Regions from separate parts of the Homo sapiens genome. Here all the other regions are linked to region 4. Evidence: fine-mapped expression QTL. A gene starts in region 4. Each other region holds a variant in brackets. All regions are shown on one strand. Distances are between the middles of the regions. Region 1 has its middle 72 kb from the start of ZFX. Region 2 overlaps ZFX (zinc finger protein X-linked). Region 3 has its middle 14 kb from the start of SAT1. Region 4 holds the start of ZFX (zinc finger protein X-linked).

What was found. PIP is the estimated chance that this variant, and not a neighbour inherited with it, causes the effect.
Region 1: its variant is fine-mapped to the expression of ZFX in whole blood (TOPMed, PIP above 0.99).
Region 2: its variant is fine-mapped to the expression of ZFX in blood mononuclear cells (TOPMed, PIP above 0.99).
Region 3: its variant is fine-mapped to the expression of ZFX in fibroblasts (GTEx, PIP 0.97).

Annotation. Positions count from the first base shown.
Region 1 is chrX:24,219,515-24,224,713 of GRCh38, reverse strand. No RefSeq gene overlaps it. Among named protein-coding and RNA genes, the nearest start is that of ZFX, 72 kb to the right of the region's middle. The variant AAAGG/G (reference allele first, on the strand shown) is at 2,773.
Region 2 is chrX:24,211,975-24,217,173 of GRCh38, reverse strand. It overlaps ZFX (zinc finger protein X-linked), which reads right to left. Exons shown (of 10, transcript NM_003410.4): 10 at 919-5,199. Among named protein-coding and RNA genes, the nearest start is that of ZFX, 65 kb to the right of the region's middle. The variant A/C (reference allele first, on the strand shown) is at 2,187.
Region 3 is chrX:23,794,331-23,799,529 of GRCh38, reverse strand. No RefSeq gene overlaps it. Among named protein-coding and RNA genes, the nearest start is that of SAT1, 14 kb to the right of the region's middle. The variant A/C (reference allele first, on the strand shown) is at 2,737.
Region 4 is chrX:24,147,107-24,152,305 of GRCh38, reverse strand. ZFX (zinc finger protein X-linked) reads right to left here and starts at 2,577. Exons shown (of 10, transcript NM_003410.4): 1 at 2,512-2,577; 2 at 506-615. ZFX-AS1 (ZFX antisense RNA 1) reads left to right here and starts at 2,652. Exons shown (of 3, transcript NR_046657.1): 1 at 2,652-2,751; 2 at 3,464-3,553. RefSeq lists silencers at 1,571-2,080, 2,131-2,180, 2,201-2,610, 2,671-3,030 and enhancers at 2,121-2,934, 3,141-3,240.

The sequences.
Region 1 (5,199 bases), 72 kb before region 4:
AATCCCAGCACTTTGGGAGGCTGAGGCGGGTAGATCACTTAAGGCCAGGAGTTCGAGACCAGCCTGGCCAACATGATAAAACCCTGTCTCTACTAAAAACACAAAAATTAGCTGGGGGTGGCGGTGCGTGCCTGTAGTCCCAGCTACTCGGGAGGCTGAGGAAGGAGAATCACTTGAACCCGGGAAGTGGAGGTTGCAGTGAGCTGAGATTACACCACTGCACTCTGGCCTGGGGGACAGAGTGAGACTCCATCCTCCCCCGCCCCTGCAAAAAAAGTTATGGGGCACAGTTACAGAGAAAGACAAATGACAAATGGAACAAAACAGAGATCCTAGAAGCAGATCCACTTACACAGGAATATTTTATATATCATGGAGCTGGCTCTGCAAATTAGTGGGCAAGTATTGATTTTTTCAATAAAGAGTTGAACTGTATGAAGTTGAAGTTGAAAAACGTTAAAGTGAATGCTTAACTCACACTATAATCCACATCGAATCCGTTTCAGGATAAAGACATAAGTATGAAAAGTCAAACTACAGAGCTTTAAAAAACTAATATCAGAGAATAACCTCATTACTATCAGGAAGGATTTCTTAAGACACATAAAGCATTAATCATAAGGAAAAGATACCAATTTTACCAGGTTATAATGATGAACTTAAGTTAATCAAAAGACACAATAGAGTAAAATGGCAAGCCACAGACCAAGAGAAGATATTTACAGAGATTTTAAAATTACATGTATGGCCAGGTGTGGTGGCTCATACCTGTACAGCACTTTGGGAGGCCAAGGCAAGAGGATCACTTGAGCCCAGGAGTCTGAGACCAGCCGGGGCAACACGGCAAAACCCCATCTCTACCAAAAAAGAAAAAAATAGAAAAATTAGCCAGGCGTAGTGGCATGCACCTGTGGTCCCAGCTACTCGGGAGGCTGAGGTGGGAGGGGTGGTTGAGCCCAGGAGGTAGATGTTGCAGTGAGCCAAGATTGCGTCACCGCACTCCATCCAGCCTGGGCGACAGAGCAAGGCCCTGACTCAAAAACTAACTAACTAAATAAATAAAATTACATATAACTGACAAAGGACTAATATCAAGACTATATAAAGGGGCCAGGCATGGTGGCTCACACCTGTGATCCCAGCTCTTTGATTGAGCCCAGGAGTTCGAGATCAGCCTGGGCAACATAGTGAGACCTTGTCTCTTAAAATAGATGATAGATAGATAGATAGATAGATAGATAGATAGATAGATAGAGATATAGATGTTTATGGATCAACAAGAAAAATGTAAGTGATCCAATAGAAATGGGCCATTCATAGAAAATAGGCCAAAAAAAAAACCAATATAGGCTTGTCACAAAAGAGGAAATGTGAATAACCAATAAATATGTGAAAAGATGCTCAATATTATTCATAATTAGGGATATGTTCATTAAAATCTCAATATAATATTCTTTTACATGCACAAAATTGGCAAAACTTAAAAGTGTGCCAATATTACCGTGTTCTCATTGCTGCACATCCTCACCAAAACTCAATATTTTCCAATTTTGCTGTGAAGAGTGTAAATTGGTCCATTTTGAAACAAAGCTTAGGACTGCACATGTGAACAAAAGTTCTCTGGAAAGGAATTTGGAGGAAAGATACTTTATTTCAGTGCATGGTTTGCAAACTAGGGAGAGGAAGGCTTCCCTGTAAAACAAAGGTGTTTTCCAGAGAACAAAAACAGGGTTACGGTCTCATAGCAAAAGTTCTCGACCAAGTTCCCAATCTGGTCTGTTCATGCAAATAAAGGACTGAAACTTAGTTTTGATTGGTCAGTGAAGCTGAGTTCTGATTGGTTGATACAGCTGAGCCCTGATTGACTGAGGCAGGTATGCTCTGATTAGTTGATTCAGGTGAGTTCTGGAGTCCCAAAGTTGAACAGAGGTGTGGATTTAGGGGGAATTCAGAGGATATGGGTGACCTCTAGTCAGCAAATGGCTGCTTGGCTCTGTTTTATTTTTACAGTTTTTTTCCTTTTTTTTTTTTTTTTTTCCTATACCAGTTGGTTCACATCTATTTTAAATTTAGGCCCAGTTAGCCACTGGGGATCCGTCTTGAATGATTGGCTCTCTCAGGTTCACATTTGTTCACACATGTTAAATTTGAATAAGATCAGGAATGACATTCAGGGACAGTGGTGATGTCTGCTACAACAATGCTCTCATTCTTGCTCATTTAACAAAATGTGTAACGTATAGGGAAAGGAAGAGATGGAGAACTCTTATTCAGCACTGTGTACCTAGCATTAAGACTTTTTTACATGCTTCTTTATTTAAAGTTGAGGCAAAGAAGGTACTCAGAATGCTGTTATTCTATGAAAGGAAATTTCTGGCTGAAGTTCCTTCTACTAGGGAGAAATAAATCAAGAGCACTGTTACTCCATCAGGACAGGTTGCACATTTACAGACTATCACTCTCTTGCTTCTTTTTTTCTTTTTTTTCTTTTTTTCTTTCAGCAATCCCACCACTGGGGACATACCTTCTCTCTTCAAGAGACATCCCTTTCAAACATTTAAATTTTTCGGTACAATAATGATCACACGCTGGGGCACGGGATTAAAGGGATTCTTTCTTCTTGGTGCCATTTTATGATGACAAGACAAATCCAGGAGATGTTATATGTGAAAAATAGGAATTCCCGAAGAAGCAAAATGCCAGTATGATAAGTAATAATTACACACAAGATGTAAGAAAACTTCTTTAGCTGAAGAGAGACTTAACAGAAAG[AAAGG/G]AATCAGCAAATAACAAATCCCAGATGTGATTAGAAGTACACACAAACACACACGTGCACACACACACCCCTAGATAGATTCTAGTGACCTTTCTGAGTTCCAAAGACAAAGGAAAATTCATATGAACTTCAGGAAACAAAGGAAGAGGCATTGGAGTTCTCATAACACTAAAGTTGGAAAACAATGAAACATCTATAAACTGTGAAAGAAAAGAGACTGTGAACAGAAGTTTATACCTACTAAGATCATTTGTCAAGGCAAAAATAGATGTTTTGGGGTAGTCAAGGTTTTAGAAAGAATATACACCCACATACCAAATATGAAGGAACAAACGAAGTATACATCAACCAAATGAAAATTTATTCAGCACAGAGATGTCAAATGGGGAAAGATGAAATGGACAAGAAACAGCAGTAGCCAAAAATTCTGCAGTGTACACTTATGTCTAATAAATTATGATAACAGAATTTGTAATATAAGACATAAGAAAGGATTGAAATAGAAAACACATATCAAAGTAGAGTTCAAGACCAAATACGTTAAAGAGGACAAAAATATCCTGTAAAAGGTACAATCATAAATAAGATCTGTCAAACATCTATGAAACAAAAATCGATAGAAACCAATTATATAAAGCAAAACTTTAAGTACAAGGAAACTCCATAAAACTCCCTTATAGTGAGATATTTTGATATTTTTTCAAAAATTAAAAATCAAATAGTCGCCAGGCACGGTGACCCATGCCTGTAATCCCAGAACTTTGGGAGGTTTAGGTGGGAGGCTCGCTTTAGCCCAGGAGTTTGAGACCAGCCTAGGCAACACAGCGAGAACCTGTCTCAGAAAAAAACAAACAAAAAAACTCAAGTAGTCAAAAAATAGCAAGGATATAGGATATAAAGGATCTGAATAATCAACAAGCTCAGTTTTATCTATAAGTTTATACCTATAAATGTAAAGATGTTATACTATATCTGTGTTGTATTTTCAAAAAAATTATGTCTTGCCGAAAAGGAAAACTTCAAAAATTCCAAAAAAAAATGTAGAGGTTATACAGGCCATACTTTGAACTCAGACCAACAAAACTAGAGATCAAGGCTAAAGGGATTAATAAAAATGTTTACTACTTGAAAGTTAAACTCTACTTAAATAGGAAATCAAAACAGATGTAAAACTATCTAGAATACAAAAAAGGACAATTCATATACAATGGCCTATAGCTAAAGTTGTATACCAAAGGAAATACACAGGTTTCAAGGATTTCCTTTAAAAATAAATGAAAATTAATGAAATACAAAACATCAGACATTTTAATTAGATAGTAAAATATACCAGAAGAAAATAGGAAAAGAAAATAGGCCAGGCAGGGTGGCTCACACCTGTAATCCTAACACTTTGGGAGGGGGAGGCAGGTGGATAGCTTGAGTTCAGGAGTTTGAGACCACCCTGGGCAACATGACAAGACACTGTCTCTACCAAAAAAATACAAAAATTAGCTGGGCATGGTGGTGCGTGCCTGTGGTCCCAGCTACTCGGGAGGCTAAGGTGGGAGGATCACTTGAGCCCAGGAGGTCGAGGCTGCAGTGAGCTGTGATCACACTACTGCACTCTAGCCTTGGCAACAGAGTGAGACCTTGTCTCAAAAAAAAAAAAAAAAAAAAGAGAGAAAAAAAAAGTAACAACGAAAGATAAAATTAAGTAGAAAACCAAAAAATATAAACAAAAGAGCAGTTTCTTTGACACCACCTATGAAATAGCAAAACCTCTGAAAGCCACTTAAAGAAATATGAGCCAGGCACAGTGGCTCACACCTGTAATCCCAGCACTTTGGGAGGCTGAGGCAGGCGGATCACCTGAGGTCAGGAGTTCGAGACCAGCCCGGCCAACATGGTAAATCATCATCTCTACTAAAAACACAAAAATCAGCCAGGCATGTTGGCGTGTGCCTGTAATCCCAGCTACTCTGGAGGCTGAGGCAGGAGAATCTCTTGAACCCGGGAGGCAGAGGTTGCAGTGAGCTGAGATTACACCACTGCACTCCAGCCTGGGCGACAGAGCAAGACTCCGACTCAAAAAAAAAAAAAAAGAAATATGACAGAAAACAAAACATATAACATTTAAGATGAGGAAGGAGATGCAACCAGAAATGCGAGAGAATGAGATTATTAAATAGTAAGAAAATATTGTATCTCTATGGCAATAAACTGCAAATCTAGAAGAGTGGTTCACATCTTGGCTGCACATTGTAATCACCTGAGGAACTTGAAAAATTACTGTCTGAGACCCATTCCCACCGGGCTCTGGGAAGTTCAAAGGCTGCCCCGTGTAATTCTATGACCGAAATCGAGAACCACTGAATTCTTCCAGGGCTTGGACCACGTGGTCCATGGACCACAGCGTCAATATCACCAGGGAGCTTGCAGGA
Region 2 (5,199 bases), 65 kb before region 4:
AAAGGAACTTTAGAAAGTCTGCCACAACCACCACTTCAAGGGGGAACAGTAAAAATCAATAAAAGTGGACACAAACATGCAAGGCTAATGGCGAAACCTCACATGTTGCTAGTGTGCTAATGTCAGAGGGCAATCCAGAATTGGACTAACCTTTATTAGGATGATGTAAGGGAACTCTCCCCCTTTTCCTGTGTTCTAGCCTGGGAGGGCTGGAGTAGATGCTCCCTTTCTCTGATGACAGAACTAGTCTCCTGATAGCTCACAAAGGAGTGGAAGGTAGGCCCCATGCCTTCAAATGACTGGCTGCATCAGTCAAGGCCTACATTGGAGGGAAAGAGATTGGAAACAGACTCATCTCAGCCTCTGGGTCTCCCAATCCAGCCTTACTAGAATAAATCGCACACTTAATTGGTGGTTTCTTGTCTATCTTCAATGTGGTTAGAACTCAAGAGGGGAGGACAGGTGACTAGAACCTTCAAAACCCCAACAGATGGCTTTGCAATACCCCTCCTATTTCAAAGAATCTCAGACAAAAGGAAATGGGTTCTGCATTTAAAAGCAGAAACTGGCCTCTTAGAAAGCAAAATAATATAGGTCTAGTTAACTATTCTATACTTTTAGTCAATGTGTTTAGATACTTCTGTGGTAGTTCAGAGCCAAACAACATCTAGAAGTCCTGAGCAGGTTTTTAGTAGCCAAGTCTCCTAGTGGCTTTACAGTCTCGACAGGTCACTGTAATGCCAGATCCTTTGTGTCCACCAATACCAGCAATACAAGTAACATGAGAGACCAATTGAATAGGAAAAACCAAGTAAAGGAAAGTAATTCTTGATTTTGACCTCAAACTTCATGGAGTGAGTACTTCCATCACAGAGGTCAAAACATGATTTTGAAATCCAAGTCGGTACAGATGCTATGCCTATATGCACCAGTGACATGTTCCTTGGTGCTATTATTAGTGTTGAACCACTGAAGGGAGTCGAATCACCTCCAGCTTCAAACAAGTTGGGAATTCATTAACTGTGTGATTTAAGTCTCCTCGTTTCGAGTATATACCTTGTCTATAGCCAACACTCCACTAGGGTAACTTAAAACAAAATAGTAATTTATTTACAATAGCAAAGATGTCAAAAATAACAGGAACAATATATAACAAATCCAAGATTTTTATGAAAAAGGCAAACAGTATATACACGAAACAAAAGATGAAACAAAATCCATAGGGTAAACTTAATTTGACCTTAGCTAAACAGTTACAGAATGTGGCAAAATGGTTATGATTTATTTAAGTAACCCTGGGCCAATTAAACACACACACACACACACACAATCTTTTTCAACCCTTCTCTTTTAAATGCTGAATCTTCCTCTCAACTCAGTTTACCTTTGAAGAATGTAACCATGGGAGGCCACACGAGATTTAGGAAGTGCAGGCTATTTACATGTGCGCTAAAGGCATACTTGTTGACTTGGCAGGCTCACACTTTTAAAACAGCAAATGGAAGGTATAAACTGTCTGGGGTCCTATTTTTCTCTCACTGTTCATTTCTGATTTTTTGTGATAATTTCTTTCTTATCTACCACACAAAATGCTGAACCAGTCATCTTTTAGGTTCCTCAAGTGCTCTAAAAGTGTTTCCCAAGTTTGAACAGGCATCAGAATCACTTGGAGAACATGTTAAAACAAAGACTGCTGGGTCCCACGCCAGTTTCCCAATTCAGTAGGACTAGGGTGGGGCTGAGAATTTGCATTTTTAACAAAGTCCCAGGAGATTAAGATGCTGCCAATGCTGTCCGGCCATACTTTGAAAACCACTGCTCTGAAAGATTGCCCCTTTAAGATATTGATTAGCCATGTTTTTCCTTACATGAATGCTAGAATTTGTGGGAAATGAAATTATTAATACTGAGATTCCCAGAGAATACAAATACAGCAGCATGTTATCGGACTTGTTGGATCACAGACAGGTTAGGTGTCATTTGTTGGGTGTTCCATTACAAAAGTTTTTCAGCATGCTATGTATGGTTTTGTCTGATTTATGGCTCTGGACAGTGACATTCACCACATTCCCTTCGTCATTTACCTAAAATTTTAATTTATTGTTTCAACTATTAGGCAAACGTTTGTTCATACAGTTGGAAGAACTGCAGAATCTTGTCTATAAAATCAAAGATGGCACAACTCT[A/C]TCTCTTTTGACTCCTGACATTTACTTAACTGCCGATTTTTAACTGTGGCAATGACCATTCCCTAGTATGTTAGCATCTACTAGTCCTCTAAACTGGGCGCAGTGGGGTAACTCGAGGGCATGATTTCTGTTGTGGAGGTGGTAACAGTCCCCACTGATTAAATATGCTGTAAATTAATACTGAAATGAACTTTAAGTGCTCTCAAAAACCACTTTATGCATGAGTAATTTATCTCAGGGGAATTGGAGATGCTAATAAAACAAATCCTTTATGAAGATAAAAGAAAAAATGAATTCCAAGGACATGCTCATCAAAGGACTCACCAATCACCTCTTAACTTCTCTGAAATATTACTTGCAAATTCACAGAACTGAAATATTACCAGTATTTGCATCCGAGTCACAAAATTCAAAGCAATCAAGCACTTTGCATTCCACTGCTGTGAAAAAGAAATTAAGAAATGGGGGGATGAAAATAATCCACTGCTTTTGATGTTTATTAGGTTTACAAAAACTGTACATTTTTTTTCCTTGAGAAAAAGCATTAACTTAGTACTGGTATCAAATAGACTAAACATTCAATAACAGGAAAATATTCTGATTTTTATTTTTGCACGTTATTCTCAAGTACACAATTACAATAATGTCACACATCCCTATATGATTTTCTTTTTATGTATTTTACTTTCTTTACAAAGTGTACAGAGGGAGGGACATACAATATTTAATAGGATATTTCTACAGAACAATAACTTATATTATGTCCTTGTAAAAATCTGTACCTCTTTAAAACATTTAACTGAAACATCCATTTTTTTTTAGCTTTGCTAATCAAAATTGTTTTAAGAATTAAAACTAGGTTGTAACTAATGTCAGTACATAACAGTGACTACAATTTCATTTTCTCTTTATACAGACAAGTATGTTTTATCATATTCACTTGACCAAACCCTTAAATACCTTTTAAAGGTTTTAATGTTGTGCTTTAAAAAGAACTGTGTATGATTCCGGAGTATGTAAGAGAAATATAAAATGTGTGAAGTGTTGTGTTCTTTATCTTTCAGTTTATTTAAAAAAATATAGTTAAATGACCCAATCATTTATATTTTCTGTATTAATTTTATAGGATTTAAAATTAATACATTTCCACTTTCATTTAAGTGTTTTTACATTATTTCTGGGAAAATAAAAATTAAGGGAGATTTTAAAGGTTCTCACAAAAAAACAGACAGAGCTTTCAAGAATCGCAGGGCAATGAATCACGGATCACAAAATTGTAAGTTAGTTTAAAAAAAAAAAAAAAAAAAAAACACATTATGGGGGCCAAGAAGGTACAGGAATTTCCTATAAGATAGGCTAGGAAAACCCATGCCTTGACTTTGACTGGCATTTGGGCTGGAGTTCACACCTGCCTAAAGCACTTGGTTTAAAACTAGACTAAATCAGTCTAGCACTTCAGAGGTTTGCCAAACACCAAATATTTTGATTTCTAACCCTAAAAATATAACTCTTGAATACAAACATCAATGGCAAAGAGAAAGATGAAAGGTAAAAACCTAAGCACACAGGGGATGGAGCACCATAATGAGGTGACAAGGCAGCTATCGGGTGGGAAGACAATTTCTAAATCTCCTACAATGTGCTAGATGCATACGGACCAATAGCCAACTGAAGGGACCCCAAAAACTGTTTTCTGTTCTCCCAGATTCGTCTTAACATAACCAAGTTCTAATTAACCGAGTTTGTTTTATGAATGTATGACACTGATTCAGACCTATGTGGTGTCTGGGCACGGTGGCTCACGCCTGTAAACCCAGCACTATGGAAGGCCGAGGCAGGTGGATCACGAGGTCAGGGTTCAAGACCAGCCTGGCCAAGATGGTGAAACCCCATCTCTATTAAAAATACAAAAAATTAGCCGGGCGTGGTGGTGGGCGCCTGTAATCCCAGCTACTCGAGAGGCTGAGGCAGATAATTGCTTGAACCCAGGAAGCAGAGGTTGCAGTGAGCTGCAGAGGTTGCAGTGATCACACCACTGCAGTCCAGCCTGGGCAACAGAGCAAGACTCCGTCTTAAGAAAAAAAAACAACAAAAAAAAACAAACAAACAAAAAACCTGTGGAAGACTTAGTGATGTTCCAAATAAGGCCTCAGACTTTCCTTATCCACTTAAAACACATCTTTACCTTTTAATCAAAGCCAACTTGAGTGTTAAGTTTTTAAAGTTTGCTAACTGTAACTGAGAAATAACAGATCAGCCTGAACTTGCCGAGTGTGAAGTCATAATTAGCACCCGTTCTCTGGTCCACAGAGCCATCACTTCTTTTCCATCCCCCTCACTAGGTAAGACAGAGTTCCCTCTCAGGCTTCTCAAAGAGAACTGTGGGAGTCATGTCTGGATACTCATTTGCTTTTCAGAAAAACATAAAGACATGGAGGTGAAATTGTATGAAAACATTCTACCTAGAAACATCTTAACCTCTATGTTTCAATTACCAAAGATATTTAAAAGAAAATATCTTTACTCTTTAAAAATACTAGTGTCCTTATTTTCCTTCTAATTCTTCACCTGAGTAGTCTCTCTGAAGAGCATGACTTACAAAATGCTCTCTCATGCATCCCTGGATCTTTCATGTTATTGTAAATTTAATACTTTTCATTATAGATTTTAAACAACTACTACTTGGGGTTGTGTGTATAAATATGTAAAATAAGCAATACACACAGGTACATGATATATATGTGTATATATATAATTCAGGGTACATTTACATACATAAAGTTGCAAAAGATCCTATAAGCCATGAGTTACCTCTAGGAGATTCCAAAATGCAGTCCTCAGTAAGTGTCATTTGTAGCACACAACCATTCCAAGATGAAGCCGCACAGACAGAATAATCAAAATACAACATGAGCAAGCACAGTTTTTCAATAAGGTTTTCTAAAAGTTTGCTACGCTGACAAAAGATGTAAATAATCCAAAGAAAGCCAAAAGAAGTATATTTGAAAAGTAA
Region 3 (5,199 bases), 350 kb after region 4:
CTTGAAATAAAACCCCAGTACATGCTCCTACCTAAGTAATCTGAGAAGGGGTCTCAACTCTCTGGGAACTCTTCCCTTGAGAGCTGTACATTCCTGAATTATTCTTTGGTTTGGTGCCCAGAGGTTTTTACACCTTGGGGGTAGCACCCTCTGCTAAGATTCAGGGTAGGTTAGGGGTACACCTTTCTTTAGTAAGGTGGGAGAAGGGCATTCATTTATTTATTTTAGGGACAGGGGTTTCACTGTGTTGCCCAGGCTGGTCTCAAACTCCTGGGCTCAAGCAATCCACCCACCTCCTCCTCCCAAAGTGTTAAGAGTACAGCCGAGGCCAGGCACGGTGGCTCACCCCTATAATCCCAGCAGTTTGGGAGGCCAAGGCAGGTGGATCACCTGAGGTCAGGAGTTCGAGACCAGCCTGGCCAACATGGTGAAACCTCATCTCTACCAAAAATACAAAAATCAGCAGGTGGTGGTGGCAAGCACCTGTAATCCCAGCTACTCAGGAGGCTGAGGTAGGAGAATCACTTGAACCTGGGAAGTGAAGGTTGTAGTGAGTCGAGATTGCACCACTGCACTCCAGGCTGGGCAACAGAGCGGGACTCTGTCTCAAAAATAAATAAATAAAAAGAGTGCAGCTGTGAACCACCCCATCTTGCCAGGAAGGGCATTTATGAAAGAGGAGAGAGGCAAGAGGAGCCAAGTGTGACCTCCTATTATTATTATTTTAATTTTTTTTCTTTTTTAGAGACAAGCTCTCACTCTATTGCCCAGGCTGGTCTCAAACTCCTGGGTTCAAGGGATCCTCCCGCCTTGGCCTCCCCAAGTGCTGGGATTACAGGTATAAGCCACTGCGCCCAGCCCAAGTGTGACCTCTTAACCTCAGGAGCATTTTCAGGTAGACCATTTCTGGAAAGAGTATATATAGAAGTTGAGGTTTGGAACCCAAGTTCCTTAAAACTCAGTACCTTGGAATCCTCTTGTATACCTCAAGCAACAAATGTTTCCCAGTTTGATGGCCCTAAACTAGATGTCTCTCTCCTATATGCTTGGGGCAGAGGCTTATATAAATGACCTAGAGAGTAACTTATCAGAGATGATGTCAAGTGATTATTCTGAAGGCCCTTGGAGCAGCATCCTTCTACATCTTTTCTAATTTCCCCAAAGTCCGCTCTTCTCAGTTCCAGAGAGATCATATGGTGCCCATTAAAAATAGTCTTTAGAGACTGGGCGCGGTGGCTCATGCCTGTAATCCCAGCACTTTGGGAGGCCGAGGGGTGGGGGCGTGGATCACCTCAGGTCGGGAGTTCGAGACCAGCCTGGCCAACATGGAGAAACCCCGTCTTTACTAAAAATAGAAAATTAGCCAGGTGTGGTGGCGCATGCCTGTAATCCCAGCTACTTGGGAGGCTGAGGCAGGAGAATCGCTTGAACCCAGGAGGCGGAGGTTGCGGTGCGCTGAGATTGCGCCACTGCACTCCAGCCTGGGCAACAAGAGCGAAATGCCATCTCAAAAAAAAAAAAAAAAAAGAAAAGTCTCTAGAAGGCAGGCCTTGATTGAGTAGACTTGAAAGAAACAAGCTGTTCTGAATCTGTCCCCTAGGGGTTGGAGCATAAGAAACCTAAGGGTTTGTTTTCAAAGGTAATTCTAGAAAAGTTATCATCTGAATCAAGACTTGTGTATATTTCATTAGAAGAAAGGCATATTCTTTAAAAGAATACTTTTGGTTTTGGCTTTTATCACTTGCAAATGTCAACTTTAAATTCTCACTTCTTCTCTTGGTCCAAATGTTATGGAAATGTCATTCTTTCCTACAAGTCATTACCAGGAAATACTTAGGTCTTAAAAGGTACCTTGGGCTTTTCCCCACTGAGTTGTAGTTAGAAAGAATAATAAACATCATGAAATTCAAACCTAGGACAATATACCCGGAAAAATACTAACACAATAACCTGGGCTGCAAAACTTGTTTAGCAAGTTTCAACTGGAGGTTAATTAAAATCGGCTTGGAAACCTCTTAAAATACAGACTGGCATGTAAACCACACACACGCAGCACCACCTAGATTCTTCCCTCAGGAGCTTTCTCCTCTCCACTTCCCTGGATTTCTGTGGGAACGTTTCCCCAGAATTCCATCCGGTCTGGCGGAGACCATGGTGCCCCTGAGCATAACACAAGCCTTTTTCTCCCATCTCAGGGGAGGACCAAGAGGACGGTGGATAGACAGGCCCCTCCTTCGCAGTTCTAACAAACAGTACCCCGACATTCAGCTCCTTAAGCCTTTGAGCCCTTTTGGAAAGTGGGGTGGTATTGGAGTGGGGGGGTCAGGGCGAATGGAGGATTGAAAGAATTTCCCCCAGTGTTACATGTTTTTGGCCAGGCACAGTGGCTCATGCCTGTAATCCCAGCACCTTGGGAGGCTGAGGCAGGTGGATCACTTGAGGCCAGGAGTTTGAGACCATCCTGGCCAACATGGTGAGACTTAGACTTCATCTTTACAAAAATTAGTCAGGTGTGGTAGCATGTGCCTGTAATCCCAGCTACTCCAGAGGCTGAGGTGGGAGGATCACTTGAGCCTGGGAGCTCAAGGCTGCAGTAACCTGTGATTGTGCCACTGCACTCTAGCCTGGGCGACAGAACAAGACCCTGTCTCAAAAAAAAAGAAAAAAAAAACAGAGGAGTTTAAGTGACAGTGTTCTGGACAGGACAAGAGAGCGTGAAGAGGTCAAAGGCAGAAC[A/C]GGAGAAGGTAGAAATGCCGCCTGACATTGGACTTGCCCGTAAGAGGCTATTGAACTGGCCAAACATTCTCAGACCTTAGCTGTGTATTTCTTCCGAAGTTCCTCAGGTTACCGCTATTATTCCTTTTGTCTGGGCTTGTTTGGAATGATTGTCAGCTAACACTCCGTTGGTGGATAAGCATCTGTGAGATGTGCAGGAAACAAGGCCGAGTATAATTATAACATAATTCTATAACAACATTGCCCAAGACTGCCTCAGTACTATATGCCAGAGTACATCATGACTATCTTGCTGACAGGCATTTGGATGGCGATTAGTGTTGGATCCCGTCTGGGAATCAGGCTTGAAGCCAGAGAAACTGGAAAATGATTTTTGTCTTTTAACTCCTTGGAGGCCTGTGTGGAAAATTCAGGAGAGCACATTTTTGTTTCTAGCAACAGAACTCAAACGTAATTTGGCCAGGCATGGTGGCTCATGCCTGTAATCCCAGCATTTTGGGAGGCCAAGGCAGGTTGGGTCACTTGAGGCCAGGAGTTCGAGACCAGCCTGACCAACATGGAGAAACCCCATCTCTACTAAAAATACAAAATTAGCCGGGCGAGGTGGTGCATGCCTGTAATCCCAGCTACTCCGGAGGCTGAGGCAGGAGAATGGCTTGAACCCGGGAGGCGGAGGTTGCCATGAGCCGAGATTGCGCCATTGCACTCCAGCCTGGGCAACAAGAGCGAAACTCCGTCTCAAACACTTGCCTTGCCTCAAATCTGCTGTGGAGGCCAAGGGAAATCTTTCCCTTCGCCTTCTGACGGTTCACTGGAATATCAACTGACAAAAGGCAGATTAGTAGAAGAAATGGCATACAAATTTATCAATGTTCACGGAGGGAAATCACAGAGTGATTACTGCAACCCATCCTCCAGGGGGTACAGAGGTTTATATACCATCTTGAGGTTACAGAAAGAATGGGGCTTGGTAGCTGGGTGTGGTGGCGGGCACCTGTAATCCCAGCTACTCGGGAGACTGAGGCAGGAGAATCGCTTGAACCTGGGAGGTGGAGGCTGCAGTGAGCCGAGATCACGCCACTGCACTCCAGCCTGGCGACAGAGCTAGACTCCGTCTCAAAATAAAATTAATAAATAAAAATAAAAGAATGGGGCTTGGATCCTGGCAAAACAGGTTGGAGGAGAAGTCCTCTTCTAACCTGTTTAGGGGGAGAAGAGGAGGCCTGGCTAGCAAAGTGGGTCTTGTTATGTAGATCAAACCTCACAAGTGGTAGCCCTTTTTCAGGCCTCCAAAGGCCTCCAAAGGCGTCAGACTCTCAGTCAATCTTTCCTAGATCCGGACAAGGGAGGGCCTCCGAGAAAGCAGGGCTGCATCAATGCGGATTTTCTCTACACATACAAAGCTCCACAAAAGGCAGCTTTGCAGCTATTCTCGTATTTCCAGCCCTTCTGAATAGCCATCTTGAAATACGTCAAAGAAGTATGTTTTGGGGTGAAACATGTTGGCTTCCTTCACTGGTCTTTTGTGGAAGTGTCGAATTTTCTTGCAGAGCTGGCAGAGACGTGTTGAGACAGGGAACAGTGGACAGGAAGACTGCATTCTCCCTGTTCCTCGACACCGAATCTAAGCACAGGCAAGACCTTTTCCAGGTTTCAAAGAAACAGTCTTAGCCCTAAAGCACCACCAGTGTTTAATGAGGAAACACTACCATGAATGGTTAGTGAGACTAGACCATGAGTTGTAGTTCGTGAGGTATATGTGCAACCCGGCTACCCAGTTCAGATCTCAATCCTGTTGCCTCCTGGTTGTATGACATAAAATAAATTGATTTGTGCTGGGCATGGTGGCTCACGCCCTTAATCCCAGCACTTTGGGAGGCCGAGGCCAGTGGATCACTTGAGCCCAGGAGTTTAAGACCAGCCTGGGCAACATGGCAAGACCCGTCTCTGCCAAAAAAATACAAAAATTAGCCAGGAGTTTGGTGGCATGCACTTGTGGTTTCAGCTACTCAGGAGACTAAGGTGAGAAGATTAATTGAGCCTGGGAGGTTGAGGCTGCAGTGAGCTGCGATCACACCACTGCATTGCAGCCTGGGTGAGAGAACAAGACCCTGTCTCAATAAAATAAAATGCAATAAAATAAGATGGGCCTGATCCAGTGGTGTGCTGCAACCTGCTCCTTCTGGCTTGGGAGAACCTATTGTTAAATATTCAGGAATTTTGTCAGCCAGTTGCTAAAACCTTTGGTACACCCTTAGCGGATGTATTCACACCATGGAAATCAGCCAGTTCTACAAATCAAGGATACCCCACCTCCAGCTGACTTACTAGCATACCACTGGAATACCCTACAATATTGTTATGGGCATTCATGAAATAAAACCACAATGTCTGGCACATAGTAGATGCTCAGTGTAGTGTTACTATAAATATGTCACATAGAATATATTAATAATGTATATC
Region 4 (5,199 bases):
AAATTAACCAGGCATGGTGGCAGGGTCCTGTAGTCCCAGCTACTCGGGAGGCTGAGGCAGGAGAATTACTTGAACCCGGGAGGCAGAGGTTGCAATGAGCCAAGATCACACCACTGCACTCCAGCCTGGGCGACAGAGTGAGATTCAGTCTCAAAAAAAAAAAAAAATTACCACGGGAATACTCATTTCTCATTTTCGTCAAATAACCCACAGCACTAGTCCTGTACTTTTCAACCATGGTAAATGAAATGTTAGAAACCCCTCCCTATTTGTGTACCATAGAAATTCTGACAACTCTGAGCAAAAGATTATTTCGGATGAGAAATCAGGATAGAAAAAAGGAGCAGCTGTCTTAATAGAGACGCATCGTTCCAAAAGTAGCAAAATTTGCTTAACTTCTGAACATTCTTGTAATCGTTCTGATAATGAAAACACTGATCAACTTACTACTCTCATTATTTTTCAACTTTGAAACTTTTCCTAGTCCAATGGAACTACTAAGTACCGTAAAGCACAGCTCAGGGAACAGACGGCAGTGACAGGCGGGCAGTGGGAGGCGGGAGAACGGCTTGAGCCCAGGAGTTCGAGACCAGCCTGGGGCAATATAGCAAGAACCTGTCTCAAAATAAAAAATAAGTAAATAACAAGGTGCAGCTCAGGTGTGCCATCACTCTTCTAGTTGAGGGCACCCCCGCTGCCTACCCCATTGAGTATAAGCCCCTCCACCTGGCAAGCAAGCCCTTCTGCAATCTAACTTTTCTAGCCTGAATTCCCACCACTCCCCTACCTATACCATCCACTTTTGCCAAACTGTAAATACTTACTGTTTACTGAAGAAGCTTCACCCTTGAAACGTCCTTTCTCCACCTCCACCTCTACCTAACAAAGTCCTACCCATCCCTCGGTAACCTTCTCAAAATGCCACCTATTAATACTTCAGGAACCCGTCCCTCCCTGATCCTCCAATGGCAACCTTGCTTCCCTCGGAAATCCCAGTAATTAGTTGTACCTCTCACTTTACTGCATTTCACCTTGCCCCACCTACCTCTAAACATGAGACTTCTTGCAGCCACCGTCTGCATTACAAGAACCTTTTTAATGTTTCTTAGCATCTAGCACGGTGCATCGCTAACAGTAGGCTCCGAGTTTATCAAGAAAGTTGCACAGTGTGCAATCAAAAAAGTACGTTAGGGGATGAAACTCCGCCTTAAAACTTCACAAATGAAAAATCGAAATACCATGACAGGCAAATGCACAATAAATATGCACCACACTAAGTTGTCCTCCAATAAGAAAATAAAAAAGTCTGCCCTTATTCCTCGATTTAAAAAAATACCACCAACAGATCACTACTTAAATCGTTTTTCAAGAAAGTTGTTTCCACATAAATGAGTACGAATGATTCAAAATTTTATTCCTCCGCTCTCGTGTTGTGCAATTTTTTTCCCTATAGGACAAAAGAATGGCAAAAACTTTCCCATCAATCTTTATTTTTCTTCCTTTATTCAGATACTCGGGGCGGCAAAGATTGTTGGAAAAACAACTGCATCGAAAGCACCTTAGCAGCCACATATGATTTGACTTAAGCAAAAATAACATTTCCTGGGGTCCCGTATGCCCTGGTAAGCCCAGGTGTCCGGAATGCCACCTGCCCCGACTGCCCTCGGGTGGCTACAGGCGCGGGGGAAGGCGCAGGGCCAGGGGCGCTGAGGGTGAAACGGTCCCGGCGTCCGGGCGGCGGCGGTGGCCGCCTGCGGCAGCTCAGCTGAAACGCAGCGGAAACTGCAGCCAGTCACGGGGCTGCGGGAGGCAAGGCAGGAAGGTGGCGCTGCCGCCGAGCGCCTGGAGCCCGAGCGCTCATCATGGCGGCAAGGGCAATGGCCGCCACGGGGAGCGAGCACGCCCCTCCGCGCGCACACGCCGCCGCGCCGGGCCTCCGGGGCCCGTCACCGGCGCCGCTGCCGCCGCCGCCCGCTCTCCCACCCCCCCTCACGGGCTGTAGCGGAATTTTCTCTCCAGACACCGCCTCCAAGATGGCGGCTCCCCCTCCCGGCAACCCCCTCTATCGTCCCCTGCAGCAGGCGCCGAGCCGCCGCCATCTTGTCCCCCGTCCCTCCCCCCCCCTCACCGATATTTACATAGCGAAAATCGGCCCGGCCGGCCTGCGGCCTTCACCTCACGCCTGCAGCCTTCGCCTCCTCGCCAGGCCTCACCCCGGCGCGGTGCCCCAGGTCGGCCGCGGAGCCGACCCGGGGCCCCTCGACCGCCTCCGGCACAACCGGGCGACCCTCCCCCAACCCCCGCCCGCTTACGGAGCGCGCCTCCGCCGCCGCTCGGGGCAGCCGGGCTCCTCCCCGGGCCTAACTGCGGCCTCCTCGGGGCCTGCTCGGCGCCGCGCGCCACGCCGCCCGGCCTAGCGCGGGAGGGCGCCTTGCGGGCCGCCGACCAGGCCGAGACCAGGCCGCTGTGCGCGCACTAGGCCCCGCGGCCGCGGCGGCACCCGGGACTCACCGGACGGACGTGCGGGCGGCCGGCGACGGTGGCGGGTGCTGCAGGCCGGCCTTTCTCTGGAGCACTGGGCCGGGCTCCGGCTGGTGGGGCGGGCGGAGGGAGGGAGGAGGGGCCGAGCTCGGAGCTGACAAAAAGCGGCCCAGCTCCCCGGCACGGGCCCGCCGTCAGCACGTCACGTCACCGCCCGGGAGAGAGACCCAGGAAAATGCGGAAGGGTAGACAGGCCCCCTCCTCCGCCCGGTGGGTCCTCCTGGCACCCCGTGTCGGCGCCGCTCCCGCCCCGCGACCGGGGAGCCCAGTGGCCTCGCTGCGGCGGGGTCTCCGGCGGCCGGAGTCTCCGTGACAGCGCCCCCCTTCTTTCCACCTCCTCCGCGCTCCCGCCCGCCGCCGCCACACACGCGCCGCTGCCGCCGCCGCCTCGGCCGTAAAGCCCGCGCGGGGCCGCGGTCGGCCGACCCCGCGGAGAGGCAGGCGGCCCGGCCGCCCCCCACCATGTCCCGTGGGCCGCGGCCGCCCCCCGGGGGCCTCCCTGGAGACCTACCGCCTCTCGCGCCGGTCCTGGCCGAGGCTCCAGCTCGAGTTGTTTGCAGGCCCTCAGACCCCCGCCCGCAGTAAATGTGTTTTCTTCATCCCCGTGGCTGGGGAGGAAGATAAATTTAGCAACCCCCGCCGTCCCCTGCCTTCGCTTAAAAAAAAAAAATCTTTGAAATAAAATGAAAACGGGCTTGCCAGTCTAAATGGGTGTGCGGGAAGGGGGGTGGAGTGGGGGGAGAAGGGTTATCCCTAGAGCACCTACCAGGCCGTCTACTTTTTAAAAATAAGCAGTCAGAGCCAAACTGATTTTATTAGTTTGTACGGGGGAGGGAGATGAGCAAAGTTGCATTTTGAAACGTTTCGCACGTTGCAAAGAACAGGAATTTTCTGTGTATTTTCCTATGTACCCGTGTTTCAGAGCTTGGGAGCCTGTGAAATGTAAGACTGGTGTCATCGTTTCATAAATCATGAATTTTCCACATTCCTTAATAGAGAGGAGCCCAATTGGGTATGGATTTTTTTTTTTTTAAACACACTGCTTAAACAAGCCTTTTGAAGTTTCAAAAGACTTGGGAGAGAAGGGGAAAATGATTAAACAGCACTTACCAACTTCAAAAATGTGTATTTCGCACTTTACTTAGTTTAAATGTTTATGCTATCTTTCCATGCTGAACTTGGAACCCAAACTCTGTTTTAAAGTTACTAGGGAAAAGTTAAATAGTGGAGTCTTTACATTAATCTGGAATCTGGCATGCTATCCTTTAACACAGCACTAAATGTTAAAGGCATTTTTAAACAATAAGAAACACAAAAATTATAAAGCAAATAGTATACTGGTGTGAAATCTCTTTAAATACAGAGGCCACGTATTTTAGTTGCCTGACATAACTCTTTAAAACTCCCAGAATGCAATTTGTCCCTTCCCTCAGACATCTCTCAATCACAAATGCTTTCAAAAAGGAAAAACAAAAGTAGAGTAAGAAGAAATCTCTGAGCATGCACTGGATGATAATTTTCCTCTCGGGGCTTTAGTCTGAATTTTTCCAAGCGATTAAATTTCCTTTCAAAAATAGTAACAGCATGTATTCATTGTTTATAAAAATTACATCAGGCTGTGATAGACTTTCACAGAAAGACATTTCACAGAAAGGTAAATGAAACTAAGCAATGTTGTTTCAATAAAAAAAAATGAGAAATAGCTTGTGTGCCCACATTAATATTTCTTGCACTCCCAGACTGGAGTGCAATGGCGTGATCTTGGCTCACTGAACCTCTGCCTTCGGGGTTCAAGCGATTCTCCTGCCTCAGCCTCCCGAGTAGCTGGGATTACAGGCACTTGCCACCACGCCTGGCTAATTTTTCTATTTTTTTAGTAGAGATGGGGTTTCACCATGTTGGCCAGGCTGGTCTCCAACTCCTGACCTCAGGTAATCCACCCGCCTCGGCCTCCCAAAGTGCTGGGATTACAGGCGTGAGCCACCGTGCCCGGCCGCCCACATTAATATTTCAAAACATTGATAATCAGCGTTTAAGTACTTTCCAAGGGCCTCAGTGTGATGCTACGGTATGGCAAGAATGGAGGCCAGGTTCCCTGGTTCAGTCCTGTAATCACAGCACTTTGGGAGGCCGAGGCGAGAGGATCACTTGAGCCCAGGAGTTCAAGACTAGCCTGGGTAACATGGTGAGACCTCGTCTCTATTAAAAAAAAAAAAAAAGAAGAAGAATAGAGCCTCACTTCATCCATGCAACTGTAAGCAGCATGTTCAAGACAGAAAAACCTAATGTCACCATTCTTGTTAGTTTTTCCATAATTACCATCAAAAATACTTATACATCCACCAGTGTAAAGCACTTAAGAAAACAGTGTCCAAGGAGCATGAAAGAAAAAGAAGTTTTCTCAGTTTAAAAGATCACAAGTAGTTTAGGGATTGATACTTTCAAAGAGCCCTTTGTCATTACTTTTCATACAGGAAGAGACTGTTAACTTTGGTGGGAAACAAAGAAAGGATGGCCTAGTTCTATTAGATTAGATAAACCTTTATTAAAGTCCAGCAAACTTTATAAAGTCCAGTTATTTTATAGATGACTATACAGATAAGGTCAACTATATTTTTTTTAGTTAAAAAAAGGTAAAGTTGTACTTTAAGCCCATTT